Homo sapiens: one gene and its partner. The protein of the gene in region 1 purifies or fractionates together with the protein of each later gene. This does not show direct contact. Each region holds a gene or a part of one and is shown on either strand. Other genes may lie near its edges.

Region 1 (8,674 bases):
CTACCTGAAATGAAATGCACAGGTAATACAACCAATCTACATATATATTTTAAAAATTAATACACTAATACAAATAAAATTTTTAAAGACATTAATGATAGAGGCCAGGTGTGGTGGCTCAGGCCTATAATCCCCCGCACTTTGGGAGGACGAGGTGGGCAGATCACTTGAGGTTAGGAGTTTGAGACCAGCCTGCAACATGACGAAACCGCGACTCTACTAAAAATACAAAAATTAGCCAAGTGTGGTGGCACACGCCTGTAATCCCAGCTACTCGGGTGGCTGACGAAGGAGAATCACTTGAAACTGGGAGGTGGAAGTTGCAGTGAGCCAAGATCACGCCACTGCACTCCAGCCTGGGCAACAGAGCGAGACTGTCTCAAAAAACAAACAAAAAGAGAGATTTATGATAAAAATATGCATTTCAGTATGTAAGTCTCAGACATGATTATACCAGAAGATATACTAACCAGATGCTAATACCTATACATAAAGTCATAGTGAATGTAACAATTACAAATGCCCATAGACTGGTATATTGGTGACTCAAATGCCATGAACACAATTTCATTTTTTGATATGGTGAACCATTGGCCAAGTTTAGAACAAAGCAAAGTACAAGCTTCCCTCACTGTACACTGTAGTTACATTTCTAGATAATTCAGTGCACGTTAAAACTGAACAAAATATACTTTATGTTCCAACAATGTTTTAAATTTACTTAATTATAAAAAAGTGTTTCACCTACACAGATAGCCAATGAAACACTCAGAAGTCCTGCAGAACACAGAGCTAGTCTTTGCTGTTTACAAAGACTGTCCCACACACTACTGGACTACTACCTACCCTGGCCCTAAAATGCCCTTAAAAATCATTCTGTTAACTAGAAACATCCTCACAAACTTCTAGAACACCTCGTAGAAATCAGTACTACCCCTACCACTGCCCCCTTGAGAACCACAGCTCTAAGAGTATTATTCCTGACTGAAACAGCTGTGCCTCAGAAAAACCAAGGAATACACAAGCATAATAAAGTATTTGCCAAATCACTGCTGATTGTAAATGCTCATTGTTAATAGTTTGCATGAATTAAAACAGATAAAGGTGTCTATAATTAGTTCTGAAAGAGACACTTAAATTTAGCTTTGTTTTCAAGTCAAAAGAAATTCTTAAACAACATGCCTATCTGCTGCACAAGAAAACTGAAGGAGAAAAATAAGGCAGGCAAACACTGACACTTGTGGTCATTCTGAGATTGCTTATTTGCAATCAGGCTAATTCTTGCTTTGTGAGTTCAAGGAAAGTAAAGCTGGTTCATAAATCATCCACTGACTTTAGAGGAAAATTACAAGCTTTTAATAAACATTTGACTTCTCTTCAAAAAGGGGAAACTACCTATACTAATATTAAATAACCAAAAACAAGCCATTTGTCCAAATCCCTTATGTAATGAAAAAGACTGCATCTGATTATAAATAAAAACAGTCAAGAGAAATAAACTCCAAGCAAACATCATGCAAAATTGTCTAGTCATCTCAATAAAACTAAAATTGGTCTCTAAATAATTGTGTCAAGTGACAGTTTTCAGAGTGGTATGGTGGAAATTATACCTGATCTAAAACATTAAGATTTTTGTCCAACATGGGAAAAAATAGCTGGTATTTCTGGTAAGTCCTAGCTGAAATTAATTCCTTGAATTCAGGGACCAACCACTCATAATAAAGCACAAACAGGAAAGGAGACCAATATAAGAAGACCAGATTCATGTCTCCCTTCTAATGTTACTCAAGGATTTTGCTCATTCCCATTAGATGAAAATCATCCACCCTGGTTGAAGTGCTCTCCCCCTACCTTTCTCTTTTAATCTTTTTACCAAGGACATATTGTTGAATGTACATACATAGATAAACAGATGATGTAACTCCATGAGTTACTATTTAGTAGCCACTTGAACAGCAGATTTACATCTGATTCAACATGTAATAATCATTCAAAACCATTAACTACATGAATACAAAAATAATTATTCCTATACCCAGTAAAAACTGACAATTAGGAGGCATTACAATTCCTGTCTTTAAATTCTGACTCCTTGAAGTCTATACTAGACATGCCCAGGAAAATGCTAAAACCGGCCTGGACAGCTCTGGCCATGATGCACATAGTAACGGCCACCTATTTTGCCATCACGGATGTGTTGTAGGATTAAAAATAGACTTATGCAAGTGACAATTACAAGCCATTTATAACTATAAAACTTAACAAAATAGCTGCCAGTTTGCTGAATCTGAAAAAGAAACCTGTCACATTTACTGAATTAGTTTAACCATAGAATTCAGATGTTAAAAGAAACTAGACTAAAGGAAGAACTTCTACAAGCTCTCCTGTCATAAGATTTTTACAGTTTCTCTTGACTGGAAACATGTAGGTTGCTACAAAAAGTTACTAAAGGAACTTTTATCTCACATCTGCCCTGTTTTCCTGAACTTTACGTAAAGTTCTTAACTAGCTTAACTTAAATTTAACAAACAGGTTGGCTGGGCACTGTGGCTCACGTCTGTAATCCTAGCACTTTGGGAGGCCAAGGCAGGTGGATCACCTGAGGTCAGGAGTTTGAGACTGGCCTGGGCAACATAGTAAAACCTCACTTCTAGTAAAAATACAACAATTAGCCGGGTGTGGTGGCACACGCCTGTAATCCCAGGTACTCGGCAGGCTGAAGCACGAGAATCTCTTGAACCTGGGAAGCAGAGGTTGCAGTGAGACAAGATCGTGCCACTGTACCCCAGCCTGGGCAATAGAGCAAAACTCTGTCTCCAAAAAAAAAAAAAAACAGACAGACAGAAAGAAAGAGGTTGCAGCTGTACTTTTAAAGTATGAAGTAAATTCCAGTTAAGTACATAGGCACCTTTTGTTAGTAATATTTGGAAGTTTCTTGCTGTTTAAATACTTGTCCCATAACAAGCAGTTCGGGGCGGGGGGGTCCCACTGGAAATTCAGGGACTCAATCCGATACTGGAGGGACCCACTAATGAATACGTTACCCATATAACTCTCTTAATAATCAAAATCTATAATAATCCAGGGAGACATTAAAAAAATCCAATCAAAAGAACTGGCAAAAGAATAATAATTATTTAGTCCTTTCCTGGAGAAAGGGGTAGGGAATGTCTCTAAATCAACTTTGTATCCCCTATACTTAATAAGCTATGCCTAAATGCACATGTTGGTACACAGTAGTTAATCAATATGTACCTGTTGAAAAAGTGAAAATATAAACATTCATTTATTATTCTATTAATGATTCCTGGGTATGCTGCGCCAGTGTTCAGAAAAAAAAAAAATCCCACAATTTCTCTAGCAGTGCCATGTAATAAAAAGTTTAAGAACAGAGAATAATGATAGTACTAGATAGATTTAAAAAGAAAACAAAAACACAGAGGATAAGAATTTAGATAATCTTGCTTCAATTCCCAGCTTGGCCTCTATTCTTATCAGTATTTATCTGACATTTGGACTATTTTACAACTCCAGGCACTGGTTCTGCATCTTTTAAGTGGGTATTACAATAATAAAATTATTAGAAAAGAGCCATTTGCATAACAGCTCAAGTAAGCTTAGCACGCAATCTGATTTTCAGTAAATACTCCATAAATGGTCATTGTGGCTAGCTTCATAGTCAAATCCTATGTAAAGAATCACTGATAAATAAATACTGATCTACAAAAACACATCTGTACTTCTGGAAAATAAGTTATTTTAAGTAAGTTCTTAAGCATTACTCTGTTAACTAGTAAACTAATTTTAAAAACAAAACGGTAGTGAGTGAGAATTGCAGTATGGGTGGATATAGACTACAAGGAAGTTGGGTTTTAGTCCTCTCCTTCAAACTTAACTAGGAAAAGTCAAAGCTCAGTCTAGGCTTTAGGTTTCCTATTTATAAAATTCTTTTTTTTCTTTAACGATCCTTCTAACATTTCTAATACAGTGGGGTTCTTAAAACTACAAAGCACATTTCATCAGCAAAGCTCAAAAATATGTGGACAAAATTTTTTTTAATATCAGAGAAAACAAATTCATATTCATTTGAAATAGCATATATTAATGGTGGAGGCAGTGAGATGAAGAATATGTATATAACTGTTAACCTTTAGCTTAAGCTCCAAAACTATAACTTTCTAGGACTGAATTACTGTCCCTAGAGTCACAGAGGAAAAACTGATAATAAAGGCTTTTTACTACAACAAAAAATTTAAAAAAACCTTCCCTACTGCTCTGCAGTAAGAAAAGAAGGTGCCAGCCCCAGAAACTAACCATATTAGAAAAATCTCAGTGAGTGTGTAGTGTTAATAAAATCTGCCTCATGGCAAGTTATTAAATCTTTCTGAAACATTAGAATAAGTAAACATAATTAGTAAAATCTCATTACCCCCAGATCCTGTACAAGTGTGCTATATCTATTACATCATTTTACTGAATTCTACGATACATGTAATTTTAAAGGGAAGGAAAAATAAATAAAAAATAAATGACAACATTAAAAAGTGATTTAAAATAAAGTTTTCTGCCATCAAGAACACCAAAAACCACATAAGAGCAAAAAAGAAGTGGGCTGTATCACATCATGCATTAGTAAAGTAATCCAAGACAGCTTATTTATACAAACCCCAGAAAACGGGGGGGGGGATCTAAATTACAAAGATACATGGTTTCAATAGAAACCATAGGTCTTAACTACATATTAGTAAAAAATCAAGAGCAATTTGAAAGCAGAGAAAAAAAACTTCAAGAAGAGAATGCACTGAAGGGGTTAAATTACACCAACTTACACACAAAAGCTTATACTGCTTACACCCTACAAAAGCATGTAAGAAACATGAAAACCAACATCTAACACAGAAAACACTTAGAAAGCCTGTACTTAAGAATAAAGTTAAAAAAGGAAGTAAGCTGGAAAAAATAAAATCATAACCATTTCATAATCATCACATTTTCAAATTATTCACTCATCACTACACTTGCATTCAACATATATAATTTATCACATAAAAGCAAAATCTCTAAGCTTCTCCCTACCTTAGGTTTTTAGTCAAAATGAATGCAAACAATCACGTGGGATTCAGCCAAGCAGTGACGTTAAATTCTGCTCTGTCAGAGAGAGCATCTGTCAAGCCCACATTTAAACTGCTGCCTGCCTGTGCAGCAGCTGAGGAACCGTGGATTTCATATTATAGACTAAAACCCCATTAAAACTGCTCAAAATCCTTCCTGCAGCTGCCAGGCAACAACGAAAGAAGAGAGGTAAATCCTATTCTTTTCCAATACAACTGAAGCACTACATTTTAGCTCTGGCTGCTTTACATTGCAGCTCAGTGTTATTAGTAGAAATATGGATACTGAGACGAGAACACAGCACTGCATTGTCCAGCCAGGAAAATAGCAGATGTAAAAAGCTTCAATGCATCAACTGTCGGGAAGAGTCAACAGTGCTACAAGCAGAACGGGCAACTACAGCTCTTTTGTTTAACGAAAGAGAGAAAATGAAAGAAAGGGAAAATTTCAGAAGACTAGGACCCATATGAACAAGGAGGGTAACTCGAAGACAAGCAGACAGATGGACACTTTGGATACTGTGAAAAGCAATCGCAGGAGGCAGACTGTTGGGGGATGTGCGCATGTTCGATAGCATCTTTTTTGCTGAAGTGATGGCGTGCCAAAAGTATTTTCAGTGGGCATAATCCTCTTCACATAAATGGCCTGACCAAGGAAGGTATGTCAATATCTTGTGTATGATAGTCATTTAAATGTGTTACCTTTTTATAGCCCTGGAGGCACTAATACCTGATAAGCAAGTTCATACAGCTCACTGCCCTTGAAACTATGAAAAGGTTTCTTAATATCTGATTTTAAAATTTGTCATTGTTTAGAAGACAAGCTGTCACTGCTTTATGCAGCTAAATATGTAGCTTGGAGTAATTCTGGGTAATAGACATCAGAGGGAAAAGGCAAATAAGAAGAAGATGTGTTTAAAGGATTCCTTAAGAAATTAAACTTAAAAAAAAATCTGTAGCCCTTTACAAAAAACACAGCAATATTCTATCAAATTAGGTCAAACTGAATCCTTATCTAGTAAATTAAATGCTCTCTTAAAAATGGCTATCAAAAGACACAATGCAGTGAAATTTCATTAAATAGTAGCAAGGAAAACCTTAAGAGTTTTTTTTTCAAAGTCCTTTTAAAACAAAACCTTAATATGTAACAGCTTTTAGTAACAAAATCTTCCCCAACATCTCCCTAAATGAAGATAATGAACACAACCAAAGAGAGTATCAACAAATTTTAAATATTACCAAGCTACAAGAAGATACTAAAAGGAAAGCATTAACATAAGATCACATAAGGTAGTGTGAGTTTATGCATAACCCCACAATAGAGCCTCGTGTTATTATAGTGACCATGAATAGAACTTTAAACAAAGGGACATCAATAGTGGCTTTAAAAATTAACTATTTTAAATAGCTTACATTTTATGTAAAAGACTGATTCCAAATGATCAAATTTAACGTTGTCTCTGATTATCATTTCAGAAGTGAAATTCAAAAACATAATATGGAAATACTTTGATACAAAAATATCCACAAATGGCAATACAAGGTCAAAAAATTAAATATAAATGTAGCTACTATGCTTCCAGGCTATATTAATATGCAGTAATGAACTACCGCCACTATATGTGTGTGCAGGGCACAGATAAACCAAATAAACTATTTTAGCAACAATCATAGAACAGCAACTCAGGGCTCAAGAACTTAAAGATATTTCTAAAATTCTACAAATCTATCAAAGATCCTGATTTTTCCTCAATTTCACAACACAACTCAGTAATTATCTAATAATCACAAAAGGCAAACATTTTTTAAAAATATGTAAGTACTGCATTCCAAAATGAAGATTAAACAAGTTTACCAGACTCTATTACACCTCAACATCACTCTCACCCATGAATTTTTATTCTAATAAAGACTAATAATAAATAGTACTAAAAAATATGGTTGTAAAAATTTCAAGTCCCTCTTGGTACCTTAATCTCTCAATATTGAAGTCACCAATTAAGCAGTTTTATAAGCTATACATCTCAAAACAAAAGTGTAAGTTTTTCTATTAAACCATCACCAACAGACTAAAGAGATCAACACTTTTAAAAGCCAAATGATAAAAACTGAGTGTGTACTGAACAGCATTTTACAGTAACATTCTCCCCATGAACTTCATCCACAAGCTATAAATACACATTAATAATGTGAAGATATCAAAAAAGAAGAGATAAACCAAAGCTATTTCTCTTCTAAAAATGTAAAAGTGCAGAACTATTTTGCATACTACTGAACTTTCTTGTTTTGCTCTCTCTTTTTAAGAATTAAAATACAACAGGCAATAACTGGAGAATAATTTTATCATTTAATAAAAAGCAGGCATGGTTATTTTAATTTTATATTCTTTTTAACAAAAAAATTTATAAGACCTGAGAATCTTTTAATAAGGAATTTTTTAAAGGCTAGACACATGCACTTCATTTATCAATGGGAGATTTATAGTTATATATGGATTTAATATCTCAACAGCTTAACATCTAAAACATACAAATACCATGAAGTCTAAATTAAGATGCATCTCTATCACATACTGTTACAAAATCATATTAGGACCAAAACTATGTATTTATGCTACATTACAATATGCAATAATTTGCTGTTTTCTGTAATACTAAAATACTTTAGAGACATCTTCAGGTATATTGTTCTTATAAAAGCAACATAAATTATGATTATTTTCCATCATTTATTTACTCAGTCCTTTAACTCAAACATCCATTCAAACATCTGACCTTATTGTTTACTCCTTCTTACACCATCAAATTTACACTTTAAAAAAAATCTGTATAATTGGACTTCAACCAGATTCCAAGTATTATCATATCAGCAGAAAACAGATAACTTATCTTTGTAACACTTAGAACAGATTATCAAATAAATTTTAAAAGCAACTTTTGTTTCTTTTGAATTTACATACATAACCCTTATATCTACTGATATCCTTATGAAGTGGAGCGGAGAGTCATTATTATTTACCAAATATGTCATTTGGAAATAAAAGCTTAAAAATAGTTCCCTGGTCTAAAAAGAATGGCCAGCTATTTAAAAGTACAAGAAGGAAAACACTGAGTTTCTAAATCAGAATGCTCAGCTCTATTATTTTCAGCTTAGCTTACAGCAGAACTATGTTTTGTTGGTACAGTGAATAGCCTTGGTTTTCATTACACTAATGCTGAGTTTAAATTCATATAAACAAATTCTAACAAATAGCATACTAGATGATTTGCTTTTAAAATTCCAAACTTAAAAAAATTGTTCACATCTTTCAAAATGCTTAATTTTTTTACATTTTAGAAATATTATAACTTCTAAAAGTACTCTGTAATCTCAGAAACTAGAAATTTCAAACGCTGGTGCCTATATGGTTGGACCTTAGATATTTGTTCAAATTCCCACCTACTTGCTCCTCCTAGTGGCTGCTACTATAATAGCACTTTCATTCATTTACATCTAACACTTTCAATCAATATTTTCAAAGTACTTAACGTTATGTATGTGAATTTTACTTTATAACTATTCAA
Region 2 (7,920 bases), on another chromosome or scaffold:
TCTTATCTCCTGCCACTCTTTCCTTCCCTTGCCCCACTTCCTTCTCCCTTCTTCAAATTATGCTGCCATCATTCATGCCCTAGTAGCAAACTGAATTCGAAGTTCTCTGAGGCAGGGCATGGTGGCTCACACCTGTAATCCCAGCACTTTAGGAGGCTGAGCGTATCTTTGGGCAGATCACTTCAGGCCAAGAGTTTGAGACCAGCCTAGCCAACATGGCAAAACCCTGTATCTATTAAAAATACAAAAAATTAGCCGGGTGTGATGGTGCATGCCTGTAATCCCAGCTACTCGAGAGGCTGAGGCAACAAAACTGCTTGAACCTGGGAGGTGGAGGTTGCAGTGACCCGAGACTCTGTCTCAAAAAAAAAAAAAAAGTTATCTATGTGATGGCCTTTCACAATTTGATCTTTATATAACCTTTTTTCTCTACCTGAAAACGCTTCCTTTCTTTTCACTGTCTGACAAACTCCTACTCATCTTTCAAACTCATGTTTGCAACACTTGCCTTCCTCCATTCTCTTCCATTCTCCCACATTCTTTCTTCTAATACCTGCATCATAATTCTTTAACATTTGCTTACATATGTGTCTGTATCATCAAACTAATAGTTCAAGAACAGCAGACATCTATTATCTCTGAATACCTGACATCCAGTATCAGAGTCTTCTATTGAAGACTTTGCCACATTAAAGTTAAAATCCCAACTCCACAACTTCCTGGCTACATGAGCTTAGGCAAGCTAATTTCTCTAAACCTCAGTTTCACCACATTTAAAATGAGATATGAGTAATTAATTCATTAGTTGGGTTGTTTTCATGATTAAGCATAAGTTTTTAAATCACCATAGTAATAACTGATTCCAGCAAGAATCAAAGGGTGCTCAAACCATTAGGTGAAAGTTTGTGGAAGAGCAGGACATTCACAGTTTCAAACTAACATATTATTTGTTATTGGCCAATGGAAAAATATAACTTTATAATGAACAACACCTTAACCAAGTAATTAAACAAATACCACCAATAAGGGGACAAACAGGTGCGAAGTGCCCCTGGTGTGTGATGCACTGAGAAAGACTCATCATCTATGAAGAATTCCTTCTAAAAATTGTTTAGCCTGAATCTAATCATAAGGAAAAAACTAGATGAATCTGAATTAATCAAACAAATGGCCCAGGCTCTTCCAAATTTTGTTAAAAAAGACACTCCTCTCCCCGCTTAAACAGTACTGAGAAACTGTCTAGATCAAAGAAACCCAAATGGTAACTAAATGGAATGAGTGATCCTTGACTGAATCTCAGATGTTAAAACGGTTTATCTTTTTAAAAAAGTCCCAGCCTGGGCAACATGGCAAAACTCTGTCCCTACAAAAATAAGCTAGCCGTGATGGCCTGTACCTGTAGTCCTAGCTACTGGAAAGGCTAAGCTGGGAGGATCACTTGAACCCGAGAGGCGGAGATTGCAGTGAGCCAAGTTCACGCCTCTGCACTCCAGCCTGGGTAACAGAGCCAGACTCTGTCCCCGAAAAAAAAAAAAAAAAGATTAGCCAGGAGTCCTAGCTACTAAGGAGGCTGAGGTGGGAGGACTGACCGCTTGAGCCCAAGAGGTTGACACTGCAGTGGGCCATGATCATACCACCACACTCCAGGTTTGGAGACAGAGCGACCCTGTCTTACAAAAAAAAAAAAAAGAAAAAAGAGAACATTATTGGGATAACTACAGAAGTCTAAATACAAGGCTGTATCCTGGATTACAGTATTATACAAAAGTCAAAGTTTCTGCATACTATAACCATTATTATAATTGCTGCAGGCTAGAAAATGGCATTGTTTTTAGAAGATACATGCTGATGTATTTAGGAGTTAAGAGTCCCGACTTCTGCAACTAACTCTTATAAGTTCAGAAAAATACATAAATTAAGAGAGAGAAAGCAAATGCAACCAAGTATTAGCAATTGGTAAATGTAGGTAAAGAGTATATGGGATGTCGTTCTAATATTCTTGCAACTTTTCCTCATAAGAACTTTTCAAATATAAAACATTTGAGAAAATCTGTTAAATAAAAAACATTAAAAGATGCAAGTAAAGTGCTTAGCACAGTAACACAACAGGTTGCTATAATTGTTAATACTGTTATTATCTTCCAAAACAGATTAAGTGACAGATCTAAGAAAATGTGACATTGAAATCACTAGAATTAACTACATCAGAAACAGGAAAAAAAAGCATTCTCATAAAATTGGACTGTGCTATAATAAATCTAACACCATAAAAAAATACCATTACAAAACCCCTCATCGTGTAGTTTTACACGAATCCACTTTAAGGTCGTCCTTAAGCAAGTACTTAGTGAGCGTCTATTAGGTGCCAGTCTGTTCTAGGTTCCGAGGATAAAAACATTTGCTTTCAAAATACTTACGTCCTAGTGAACCAAGACAATAAATGTCATAAATACAATGGAGTAAAATAAAGTAGGAAGAACATGGGAGTGGGGAAGGGCTACCAAGAGGGTGATCATGGGAGACCTCACTGAGGTGTCGAGAGCAAAGTTTGGAGCCACCTAACTGAAGAGCGTTGGGAGCCGGCCAGGTAGTCAAGGCACAGTGAAGAGATCAGTGTGGCTGGATGAAGTAAGCCAAGAGGAGGGAGCTGAAGATGGGACTGCAGATGGAAAGGGGTAACAGGCAGTCCAGAAACCAAATATACCATCCTAAGAGCTTTAGCTTAGGAGAAGCCACTGTAGGTAGCAAAGGAGAGGCACAATCTGCGGTAACCTCCACAGTGGATTCACTTTAACATTCTCCCAACTCTCCTTCTTCCCAGCGCCGCCCTCCCCCAACCAACCCGCTACCTCGGCCAGATCACCTTCCAGTGAACCTGACACATTATCATTTCTTCATGAATATTATGGGTGTGTGCTCGGATGAGGACAGCTCTGGCATGGTACATCTTTTCTCTCACGATTCCCCAATCTGCTCAGAGATAACACAAACCGCTCTCAGGGACGCACACACAACAGAGAGGTCACACTCGACAGGGAAACACACGCCTCCCTACAGCCGCGCTCCACACACCCTCCAGCAACGCGCTGGGCGGAGCCAGCCGCCTCGAAGCGAGGCTCCCGGGTCGGCCGAGCCAGCCCCCGCTCACCCTCAGGTTCCCTTTAGTTCGCTGCTTGTTCTTCCCGCCCATGGTCGCGGTTGCAGCTGTACTCTGAGCACTCAGACCCCGGTTGACACGTCCGGGACACAACTTCCGGCTTCTGGCGGCGGAAGAGGACACCCTGTAATAACTTCCCCCGGGCCCTTTTCCGCCACCCACCCTGTCCATTTGCTGCCCCACTTCCGCTCCCGCCTCCCGCTGTGTCCCTGACCATCCGCCACCGGAGACGTCACAGCTAAAGCCACGCCTGTCTGAGTGATGTCATTCCTGGCCAATAGGAAGCCAAGCATTGGACCCGTGGCGCCAAATCCTGTCCTCCCCGCTTTCAGAAGCTAGGTTTGTTCCTTGCTTAGAGGGTAGGAAACTGGCGTGAATCATCAGAGGGGCAGTTTCACATAAGGGTAGCATTAGAATGTTATGGTAGAGGCTGTGGGAAGATGGGAGTGTTTTAGACTTCCAACATGATGCAATCATCAGTATCACCTGGGCGTTTTTTAGAAAAGGCCAACTCGGGCCCCTCAGAACTCCTGAATCAGATCCTGCATTTTGACAGTATTCCCAAGTCTTGTTAAAATTTGATTACTGCTGTAGGCACTATTCTCTCTAAATCTCCCCTCCCCGTCCCCTTTTATTCATATTGAAACTGTTAACGTGCAGTTTAGGAAAGAGGATAATGTGGGAGTCCCTATTAAAATTTGAAATGTACAAATCCTGTAACCCATTGATTGTGCGACTCAGAATCACACCAGAGAAACAAGTAAATGTGTGCTGGTTATTGTTTCTTGTCCACGCAGTCACCCTTTTATACTCAACTCCATGTTACTGGGGGGGCTTCTGCTAGATTCCACCAACAGGACGAACAAGAGGGAAACAAAGGCAAGAGGAAGAAGGGACTTGCTCCATTCTGTAAGCATCATGCCAGCAGCAGCTGCATTTTACCGTGGCAGGAGCAATTGCTTTAGCCAAAAGGTGGTTTTAATCTCTATCCTTTTTCCAACAATCACAGAATCAGCCTTATTGCACCCCTCAGAGATCACAGCAGCAGTCAGTGCTCTCCTCAGAGATCTGAATTCTACTTTCATGCGGCCCCTCCCCTGAGCTCCTGAGATAGCCAATGTTTGAGCCACCTCCTCAGAAGTTTGAGCCTCAACACCGTGGGATCCCTTCTTTGTGCTCCAGAGATCCAGTAACAGCCAGCCATCACCCTCTCTTCATTCTTCATAGGCCTGAACTAAGGTGTTCAGGGCCCTCCTTCAAGCTTTTAGGTTCTGATGACTCCAACCACTTCTTTTGTTCCATCCTTTCCTAGCTCTAGGAATGGTAGCTGCTACCTGCAGTGATTACCTGTTACCTTTTATAATTCCTTTTGACCAATTTCCCATATTAAAATATTTCTCAATAACTAATGTGATTTCTGTTTTCCTGACTGGACCCTGATTTTAAAATGCACACAAAAGCCAGGTGCAGTGGCTTATGCCTGTAATCCCACCACTGTGGGAGGCCGAGGCAGGTGGATCACCTGAAGTCAGGAGTTCGAGACCAGCCTGGCCAACATGGCAAAAACCCATCGCTACTAAAAATACGAAAATTAGCTGGGCAGTGGTGGCAGGTGCCTGCAATCCCAGCTACTTGGAAGGCTGAGGCACGAGAATCTCTTGAACCCGGGAGGCGAAGGTTGCAGTAAGCCAAGATCATGCCACTGCACTCCAGCCTGGGTGACAGAGCAGACTGTCTCAGAAAAAAGTCACACAAAGAGACATATTACAGGAGGTTCACAAAAACTTTATAATAGAAAGATAATTGTAAGCAACCTATGTCTATATATTGGAGAACTGCTAAATAAATTATATGTATTCAATAAGCTATTAGGCAACATTTAAGAAGAATAAGGTTTATCTGAACACACATAGGAAGAATTCTAAGACACATTCTTAAATAAAAAGCAAATACCAATATATACAGTATGATACCATTTGTGTTTTTAAAACCCACAACACAATAATATATATATATATATATTTATGCATATATATATAATATAAATACAGAGAATAGGCCGGGTGCGGTGGCTCACGCCTGTAATCCCAACACTTGGGGAGGCCGAGGTGGGTGGATTGCTTGAGGTCAGGAGTTTGAGACAAGCCTGACCAACATGGTGAAACGCCGTTGCTACTAAAATACAAAAATTAGCTGGGCATGGTGGCAGGCAGCCGTAATCCCAGCTACTAGGGAGGCTGAGGCAGGAGAATTGCTTGAACCCAGGAGGTGGAGGTTGCAGTGAGCCAAGATCGCGCCTCTGCACTTCAGCCTGGGTGACAAAGTGAGACTCCGTCTCAAAAAAAAATAATAATAAAATAAAGATCTGCAAGAATACATACCAGTCTGATCATTGTAGTGACTTTTTGTGGGAAAAAGTGGCAAGAAAAGACATTAGGGTTAAGAGTTATAGTCAAAGGAAATTAAGCCTTATCTGTAAGATTTTATTTTATACAAGGACAACATCTTCATGTATTAATTATGTAATTAAAAATCAACTCAGGCTGGGTGCAGTGACCGATGCCTATAATCCCAGCACTTTGGGAAGCCAAGGTGGGTGGATCACCTGAGATCAGGAATTCAAGACCAGCCTGGCCACGATGGTGAAACCTCGTCTCTACCAAAAATACAAAAACTAGCTAGGCACGGTGGCACGCACCTGTAACCCCAGCTATGTGGGAGGCTGAGGCAGGAGAATTGCTTGAACCCAGGAGGCAGAGGTTGCAGTGAGCCAAGATCGCGCCACTGCACCCCAGCCTGGGCAACAGAACAAGACTCCGTCTCAAAAAAAAAAAAAAAAAATCAACTCAACAAATATTGTTTGTTTAAAATAAATCATTGGTTACATATATCATGGTACATTGGTTATACAAATTGTAGTGTCCTCATTCTTGAGAGTTATACAATATAGCTGCAAACAGTTTAACACATTGGAAACACTACTAGATATCATGCCATTCACTGAAAATGTGGGTGTCACATATCAAAAATGCTACAGAAGGGGAAGATTAACATGTGCTTGAGTAGTCAGATAGGCTTTCCAAGCCAAAGCCCAAAGCTTGGAAAACATTAGGAAAAGTAAAATAAAAGGGAGAACATTCAAAATGGGGACGAGAGAGGGACAGAGACAGTGAGTTGGATTAGCATGGATTTCGGAAAGGACAGTCAAGAATCTAGCCTAACTTCAGTGCAGACTTACCCAGGGGGAAAAAAAAAAAAAAAACTTGAAGGACAAGACTGGAATGATTTTCTGTGCTCCTATTTACTAATTGTTTCCTAAATTTTGTCTGTTCTTGCTGGAAATATCTCTTCATTTCATTTCCTTGTATTCTGACGAGACTTTCCACCTTTTGCAACAGGGATCCATGCCTCTTGCCATGTTCCTCAACTACTCCAGGCCACACAGATCTCTCTTCGATTTTCCTAGGACATCAACTTATAACTGGTTTATTTTTTTACCCAGAAGTCAGTAGGATATTACTGCTTTGGGAACTTGAAAATAGTCTCATTGATTTAACAGTTTCTCATGTTTAGATTTTCCAGCAAGTCTGTAAATCCTTTGAAGGTGAGGCTATCTCCATGGTACTCTTAAACAGTGCCTGCCAAAGTAGATACCCGCAAATTTGTTTTAATTGATTCATACAAGGTTTTAGAAATCAGAAAATAATTGTTTCTATCAATACAGTAGGTGATAGGCAGAAAAGGTTTGGACAGAAGAACATTAAAAATAATGTTTAATTTTTGTCAAAATGTTAATGTTTATGTCAAGAAATGTCGGCTGGGTGCAGTGGCTCACGCCTGTAATCCCAATGCTTTGGGAGGCCAAGCCAGGAGGATTACCTCAAGTCAGGAGCTCGAGACCAGCCTGGCCAACATGGTGAAAACTTGTCTCTACCAAAAATACAAAAATTAGCCAGGCGTGGTGGTGCGTGCCTGTAATCCTACATACTCAGGAGTCTGAGACAGGAGAATCACTTGAACCCACGATGCAGAGGTTGCACTGAGCTGAGGTCACACCACTGCACTCCAGCCTGGGCAACAGAGCAAGACTCTGTCTCAAAAGAAAAAAAGAAAAAAGAAATGTCAATACTTTTAAGGCCAAGATTAGAAACTCTTCAGAAACCAGGTTGGGAGTTAAAAAAAAAAAAAAAAAGAGACTTGAAACCCTCCCTTCTTCATTCATAATTATTAATATTATAAATTCTTGTTTTCACAGATTAAGAGTTACACATCAGAATTATAGCCTTTTTTCCCTAAGTAAATATTGGGCATGCCTTACAGAAGTCTGATGTTAAAATAATCTTACCCATCCAGACAAGTTTCTGAGGAGGAAAATCAGACATCAAGCACTTAAAAATATATTTCGGCTGGGCCAGGTGGCTCACACCTGTAATCCCAGCACTTTGGGAGGCCGAGGCGGGTGAATCATGAGGTCAGGAGATCTAGACCATCCTGGCTAACATGGTGAAACCCCATCTCTACTAAAAATACAAAAAATTAGCTGGACATGGTAGTGGGCGCCTGTAGTCCCAGCTACTTGGGAGACTGAGGCAGGAGAATGGCATGAACCCAGGAGGCAGACCTTGCAGTGAGCCGAGATCGTGCCACTGCACTCTAGCCTGGGCAACAGAGCGAGACTCCGTCTCAAAACAAAACAAAACAACTCAGCATTAATTAATCTTTATTAAACTTGGTGGTACTTTACCTTCAACTGTTATTAAGAT

Evidence for each region. Proteins that work in one complex are often made in the same cells at the same time.
Region 2: the proteins of B3GALT2 (region 1) and LTN1 purify together in Homo sapiens (affinity purification with mass spectrometry; 3 studies listed by BioGRID and IntAct, with this or other methods). This does not show direct contact.

The regions. Positions count from the first base shown.
Region 1 is NC_000001.11:193,183,115-193,191,788, reverse strand, and holds the start of B3GALT2 (beta-1,3-galactosyltransferase 2), read left to right. Parts: upstream 1-5,175; 5' UTR 5,176-5,770; intron 5,771-8,674. UniProt on the Homo sapiens protein: Beta-1,3-galactosyltransferase that transfers galactose from UDP-galactose to substrates with a terminal beta-N-acetylglucosamine (beta-GlcNAc) residue. Can also utilize substrates with a terminal galactose residue, albeit with lower efficiency.
Region 2 is NC_000021.9:28,989,616-28,997,535, forward strand, and holds the start of LTN1 (E3 ubiquitin-protein ligase listerin), read right to left. Parts: upstream 3,263-7,920; 5' UTR 3,191-3,262; coding exon 3,149-3,190; intron 1-3,148.